2 linked regions of the Homo sapiens genome follow. The protein of the gene in region 2 purifies or fractionates together with the protein of the main gene of each other region. This does not show direct contact. Each region holds a gene or a part of one and is shown on either strand. Other genes may lie near its edges.

Evidence for each region.
Region 1: the proteins of NKAPL (region 2) and TNFRSF10D purify together in Homo sapiens (affinity purification with mass spectrometry; one large-scale study listed by BioGRID and IntAct). This does not show direct contact.

What each region holds. Positions count from the first base shown.
Region 1 is NC_000008.11:23,146,877-23,150,691, forward strand, and holds part of TNFRSF10D (tumor necrosis factor receptor superfamily member 10D precursor), read right to left. Parts: intron 1,676-3,815; coding exon 1,562-1,675; intron 197-1,561; coding exon 85-196; intron 1-84. UniProt on the Homo sapiens protein: Receptor for the cytotoxic ligand TRAIL. Contains a truncated death domain and hence is not capable of inducing apoptosis but protects against TRAIL-mediated apoptosis. Reports are contradictory with regards to its ability to induce the NF-kappa-B pathway.
Region 2 is NC_000006.12:28,257,485-28,261,399, reverse strand, and holds NKAPL (NKAP-like protein), read right to left. Parts: upstream 2,104-3,915; 5' UTR 2,029-2,103; coding exon 820-2,028; 3' UTR 442-819; downstream 1-441.

The sequences.
Region 1 (3,815 bases), on a different chromosome or scaffold from region 2:
GTCAGCGGAGAGATAGAGGTACCAGGTGAATCAGGTCTTTTCAGGTTCCTGAAAGCTGTTGGGAGCCCCTGGCTGCTGTCTTACCCTGTTCTACACGTCCGGCACATCTCAGGGGAGTTTTTATCCTGGAAGCTTCCTTTTTCACACTGACACACGGTGTCTCTGGTCGTGGTACAGGAACTTTTATTTGTTTGACCTGACAACAGAGCATAAGGTTTTGAGAATGTGTTTCCCTGACATGTCTGTCCACCCTTCCTCACCACCCCATCCCCTCCCACTCAGCTCAACTCAGTTCACCAAGGAGTTCTGAGGGCTGGTTTCTGCACCAGCACACTCGGGACTCATACAGGACACCCACCCTGTATGTAAGGACCAATACAAAAGGACCGTGATTCATTATTTATTATATCAGGTTAGGGGAAAAGCATTGTTTAGATGGCATGGTCAGTAGCAAGGGAGGCGCAAGGGCATCACCTGAGAGACTCTGCAAGGAGAGGGGCCCTTGGGGGACTTCCCAAAAGCCCCGGCCTTGCTGGGGAAGAGGAAGGGGCCTGAGAACCTGAAGGCTAAGTGAGGCCAAGCACCTTTCAGGAGCACAGAGCCCGGGAGGAGAGAGCCTGGCCACGGAGCAGACCTGTGCCACTGCTGGAACCCAGCCCTGTCCACTGGGCCAGGCCTCCTCTATGCTGTAATGATGCCCCCACCCGGCTGCAGGCAATAGTTTAGAAGATTTCCCAGCCTGGTGGCATGCATTACAGAAAAGATTTTGGCCAGGCGCAGTGGCTCACACCTGTAATCACAGCACTCTGGGAGGCTGAGGCAAGCGGATCACCTGAGGTCGGGAGTTCGAGACCAGCCTGGCCAACATGGAGAAACCCTGTCTCTACTAAAAACACAAAAAACTGGCTGGGCACGGTGGCTCATGCCTGTAAGCCCAGTACTTTGGGAGGCCGAGGTGGGTGGATCACGAGGTCAGGAGATCGAGACCATCCTGGCTAACACGGTGAAACCCCGTCTCTACTAAAAATACAAAAAAAAATTAGCCGGGTGTGGTGGCGGGCACCTGTAGTCATAGCTACTCAGGAGGCTGAGGCAGGAGAATGGCGTGAACTCAGGAGGCGGAGCTTGCAGTGAGCCGAGATCGCGCCACTGCACTCCAGCCTGGACAACAGAACGAGACTCCGTCTCCCAAAAAAAAAAAAAAAAAAAAAAAATTAGCTGGGTGTGGTGGTGCATGCCTGTGATCCCAGCTACTTAGGAGGCTGAGGTAGAAGAATCACTAAACCTGGGAGGCAGAGGTTGCAGTGAGCCAAGATCATGCCATTGCCCTCAAGCCTCAGCAACAAGAGTGAAACTGTCTTCAAAAAAATAAATAAATAAAAGAAAAGAAAAAAAAGATTTCTATTTTTTTTTTTTAATCAACTAGTCATAATCATGGAACAGGGCATGATGAAGACTACCAAGTTGGGCTAGAACTTGGTTCCCCGACTCACATCGGCTACAGCTCCCACCTCATCACTATGCACTCCACCTCTGGGCAAGGGGTCCACACATTCTGTACCTGATTTACAAACTGTACATAGCAGGCAAGAAGGCAAATTGTTGGAAGCAATGGTGTAATCCACACCCTCTGTGCACGGGTTACAGGCTCCAGTATATTCTGATCTATGAGATCCTGGGAAGGGAGAGAAAAGTTAATGAATGAGTCACCACAGAATTCCCAGAGGCTGACAATGGCTGGCAAATTTCTCTTTTGGCCCTCAGTGGAATCCAGACAGAGAAATCTGCTCTTCTTGGCTTGGTCTTGTCATCAATTCTGCATCTATTACACTATTACATACCTTTGACTGGCACTGCTGACAGAAATATAATACAAATCACATGCAAAATTCAAATTCTATGAAAGCCACATTAAAATAGTACAAAGAATGAGGTCAAATTAATTTTAACTATTTTTTAGCCTAAAAATATCCAAAACACTACATTTCAATATGTAATCAATATAAATATTTGAAATATTTTATCTTTTTTTGGCCAGGCACGGTGGCTCACGCCTGTAATCCCAGTACTTAGGGAGGCCAAGGCGGACGAATCACGAGGTCAGGAGATCGAGACCATCCTGGCTAACACAGTGAAACCCCATCTCTACTAAAAATACAAAAAATTAGCCGGGCGTGGTGGCAGGCACCTGTAATCCTAGCTACTCGGGAGGCTGAGGCAGGAGAATGGCGTGAACCCGGGAGGCAGAGCTTGCAGTGAGCTGAGACTGTGCCACTGAACTCCAGCCTGGGCGACAGAGCAAGACTCTGTCTCAAAAAAAAAAAAAAAAAAGAAAAGAAAAGAAAAGAAATATTTTATCTTTTTTAAAATTTTTTTTGGAGACAGAGTTTCACTCTTGTCACCCAGGCTGGAGGGCAATGGCGCGACCTTGGCTCACTGCAACCTCCACCTCCCAGGTTCAAGCGATTCTCCTGCCTCAGCCTCCTGAGTAGCTGGGATTACAGGCACCCACCACCACGCCCAGCTAATTTTTTGTATTCTTAGTTGACACGGTGTATCATCATATTGGCCAGGCTGGTCTCCAACTCCTGACCTCAGGTGATCCACCCTCCTCGGCTTCCCAAAGTGCTGGGATTACAGGCGTGAGCCACCATGCCACGCCCAGTCTACTTTTTTTTTTTTTTAACAATAAAATAAAATAACAAAATAAAATCCAACCTCATCTACATGTGATCTGCCCATGCTGGTCCACCTGACCTGTTTGCTGTCCACTCACTATGGTGGCCCCGTCTCTGCTCGGTATCCCCCAGCGCCTGCACCCTGGGACTGTCATTCCTAGGGAGGCTGCTCAGGAGCACCATTTCTGGCTCTCTGCACAACTATCCCTGTCCAGCTTTGGAGACTGGCCAAAATCACCATCCCCGAGAGGCCCCACCAACCTCGTCTCTGTCTCACTCATCACTTAATTTCTTCATGGTTCCTATCAGGAATTTCTGACTGTTATTTTGATCTGTGTGTCTTAATACTATCCCAGAGAAAAGGTTCCACGAGGGCAGGGCCTCTTATAATTATCCCATTAGCACGGTGCCTGACTGACAGAAATCATCCAACATGTCCCTATGGAATAAAGAACCAGAAAGTGCAGGAAACAGAAGTCTGGAAACACATAGAGATAAGGGCATGATAAAGGCATGATAAGCTAAGATATCAGTCTTAGCTTGTGCCTTCGGGCTAGCACTACAGACCCAGGATCCTGACCCACCTCCATAGATTCAGCTTCCAGATCTGTCCTAGTGCCAGGTCAGTCCCCATGAACTCAGGCTCCAGGCCCTTCCCTGTGGACCCAAGGATGAGACCCATCACAGCACCTGGCTGACATCTGCAGACCCAAGTACAAGGCCTATTCCAGTGCCAGTTCAGCCCTCATGGAGCCAGGCCTCAGGTCACCTCTCTGGATACTGGCTCTGACCACCCTTGAACCACACCACATGGCCTGCCCAGAATCTGTGAACAGGCTGACTGGTGAAGGGCGTTCCCTGACAAAGCCAGTCTGTAAATACTGGATTAAGTCCCTGCTTCTTCAAAGTGCACATTCCAACATATTGCCACAGGCTCCTGAGCAATCAGGGAACAGTGACGGCACCAAAGAAACAAAATGAAGCACAAGTAACCAACCCGAAAGGAATAGACATTTACAACAGCCTGACAAAGACTTGAAAACAGTCATCTTACAGAAGCTCAGTCAGCTACTAGAGAATATGGATAGACAACTAAGTCATGTCAGGAAAACAATACATGAACAAAATGAGTAGTTT
Region 2 (3,915 bases):
GTCTATGACTCCACAGATAAGCCATTCTATTTCCTAAGCAACAACACTTGTTTTGAGTGGGCATGTGACCCAAGCTTATCCCATTATGGTGAATCTCTGGATTCTTGTTTGGATTAGCAACTAAGAAATGTTCTCTCTTCAGAGATGGACCAGAAAAAAGATAACCAAAATCAGGAGCTTTGGCAGCCTTTTTGTTATATAAGGGAAACCAGCCCAAGGAAAATGACCCTTGGAAAAAAAGTGGAGAAGAAAGCCAATGTCCAATTAAAGCCATGCAGAAAATCCATCCTTCTTCTAGACTTTTCATTTGTAAGAGCCACTAAATCTTTTCTATTTTCTAAGCCAGTCTATTAACTGAAAGTAGAAGTATACACTTGATTGAATCCTTTGTTCTTTCTGGGCTTCTTTTGGTCCCCCCGGGGCAAATGAATGGCAAAAGAGTAACGAGCGAAAAAAAACTTTAATAGCTTTTAATCTTTATGCTGCAACATATACTCTTGTATATGCACAGAATGTATATTCTGTATATAAGACACCAAAATATATATTTTTGGGGGAAAGGTGTCAGGGGCTAAAGTGAAAGATTCACTTTTTACTAACTCTCCTCCTATAATGGTTGAATATTTTTAAAACCATGTGCACATATTACTTTTTAAAGTTAAAATAACAAAAAATAAGCTGCTAAAGATATCTCAAAAGAAGCTTTTTCCTGAGGGACTTACTAATATGGTAAGTACAGTAGCACTGTAAAGCCTTTTAACACTTTTGGTCACATAAAATTTTTGTTGTTAAAATTCCTGCTGTGCAACAAGTAAGTCCTTACTTGTCATCTTTCTCTTTTGTCTTTTTGTGCACCATCTCTCGGAAACTGGCTAAAATCTTACTTTCTCTCTTTCGTCTCTCTTCTTGGTTAAAGGATGCAAGAGCTCTCTTCTCATCAGCACTGTAGATCTGGTTCTCCTTACGCAGTCGTACAGCCTCCATTCTGCGATGCCTGCTACCACTCATGACATAACCTGAGCATTCAAAAGAACCGATCTCTTCACTTGTCAACCCAATTTCACCTCTTCGTGGGATTCGCTTTCCAGCTTTTACATACTCAGCCATAGCTGCACCTTCACCGGGAAGCAAAGCATGGCCATACTTCAAAGGTTTTTCATCTTGAGAGGTATGTATTATAGGTGCTTCTGGCCCTATTAAATCCATAGTATCTGCCACATTTGGCTGCTCCATCCAGGTAGCTTCTGACAAGTCCTCTTCTGAGTCTTTACAGCTTGAGTCACTGGATTCTTTTTTGGTTTTCTTATTCTTCTTTTTCTTTGTTTTGTGTTTCTTTTTCTTCTTTTTCTTCTTGGCTTTAACTCTCTTTTTATCATCATCAGAGTCAGAATTTGTGTCAGACTCTGAGTTACTGTCACTATCAGAATATTTCCTATGCTTTCTTTTAGACGACTTATTCTTTCTTTTTTTCTTGTTTCTTGAACGACTGGTCTTCTTTTTCCTATGTTCTTCCGAGTTGGAATCTGAACTGCTGCTTTTCTGATGCGTTACCTCTTCTTCATCCTCAACTGGGGTATGTTCGTCAGAATCTAGCTGAGGGAACTTTGGAGACGGCCCCCACACTTCAGGCGCTCCCAATTCCCCAATCCTCTCTCTCTCCTTCAGCCTCCTCTGCCGATGGCTCTCTTCCTTCTCGTAGTCTTCCGCTGACTGCCGTTCTTCTGCATAGCAGTGACGATGGTAGCGATATCCACTATACGAGGTCGACCAGGAGGACGCGAAGGCGTAGTTGCGGAATCTTGGGAGCCGCCCTCGCGACCCAGAGCGACTAAAGGGGTAAAGAGCGCCCACGTCCAACTCACTCCAAGGAGGCCTGAGGCCCTCACGGCCGCGGGAGTGAGAGCGGGAACAGCCATCCCAAGAGGAACATCTGCTCTGCGGGGATGGTGGGCTCCCCGAGGAGCTGCGTCGCCTTCTCCGAGAGCCCACGATGTCCTCGGAATAGCTGGACCGGGATACTGGGGGCATGAGCCGCGCCTCAACGCTGGGCGGTTGCTACAGACCCAGAGGCTGGCTGGTGATTCGCGGCCACGCAGGCGCACTAGAATCGGCCTCCCACGCACGGCTTCCGCTTCCTGTCAGTTACCAAACGGAAAACGAATCCGCGCGTGTGCTATGTGGGGCGGGCCTTGGCTGCGTGAAGGCTTCTTGTGGGAAGTAGGTAGGATTAGGGTGCGCCTGTTTTTAGGACTTATATTCCCCAACTTGAGCCGTGTGGGAACATAAAAGGACGAATTTGCGTCAATGATCCCCTCTACTGTTGGAACACCCACTTCTCTTTTTCGATTTCGCTTTTACCATTTTGCTTCTCACCCTTTGTTCTTCCCTTTCATTTCCACCTCCTTAACTTTACCCCTCTGTGGAAGATCCCTACTACCAACGCTCCTCCTTTTTTCCTTCCTAAAAAAGGAACTTGTCCACCCTCTTCGTGGAGGAAATATGTTTAATTAATCACTTCCCAACCCCCCTTGTTACCACTGGAAGCAAGAACCAAAACTTCTTTTGGAATCAGTTTGAGCTCACCCTCTAAGCTAGGTGAAGGCCAAAGTCGTACTTTTTTTTTTTTTTTTTGGAGACAGGATCTCACTCTGTCGCCCAGGTTGGGGTGCAGTGGCACGATCATGGCTCAGGGCCGACTTGACTTCCTAGGTTCAAGAGATCCTCCCGAGGAGCTGGGACTGCAGGTGCCCACCACCACGCCAGGTTGATTTTTTTAATAATTATTTGTAGAGACCGTTGTCACTTTGTTTCTGAGTCTGGTCTCAAACTCCTGGGTTCAAGCGATCCTCCCACCTCAGCCTTACAAAGTGCTGGAATTACAGGTGTGAGCCACCATGCCCGGCCCAGAGTCATGATTTTAATTATTAAATTCACAGACTTTTCCACCCTAGAAACACACAGAAGCATCCCACTCGATCTTGTAGACAGATGTCTTTCTATCTAGGGAGACTTCTTCAGAAACTTTGTAGTTTGGAAACCACTTTCTCGATACACATTAGATCTCACTCTCAGAAATGATAAACGTTTTATGCAAGATCATTTATCTCTCATCTTAAAATGTAAATAGGCATTAACATCATCTTGGTTCTCTCTAATTAAGTTGATCTGCTCAGTTGTTTGACAGCCAGGTCAAAACTTAAGAATGATGCCTTCCTGATGCTAGAACTCTAAACAACAAAATGGGGGAAATTAAATTGAATAAGACCAAATCATATCATTTGCTCTAAGTAGAATTTTAGTACTTTGATTGAAGGGGATAAGAATTGGTTCCATACATAAATTATATGAATTTAGGAACTGGTAAACAGCAGGGAGTATTATATGTGAATGGTCACATGTATAGTGAAAATATCATATGGATAGGGTGAGTACTATAGAGTTTGTGTAAGTAAAGAAAATTTTCTTTTGGAGTTATAAACTACTTGATAGGCCAATGAAATGGATATGTCTTACTTGGATAATTGTAAATTTAAGCCATTTAGTATCTGATGTAGACTTGAATTACAAAGCTGGTTGATGAAATACTTCTTTCAGGTAGCGACACAGGAAAATGAAATTTAGAATATATTTTTGATCTTTAGAAAAGTTATGACCTAGACTAGGGGCTGGCAATCCTTTTCTGCAAAAGGCCAATAGTAAATATTTTAGGCTTTGTGGGCCAAGAGGCAAAATTGAGGATATTATTACATACTTTTTTTAAGACAAAATATACATTTATTTTAAATGATAAAGCATAATCAACAATTTGTTCAATTATTCCAAGGAAGAGATAACTGTTTTTTTTTAATTTTTATTATAAGTTCTGGGATACATGTGTAGAACATGCAGGTTTGTTACATAGGTATACACACGCCA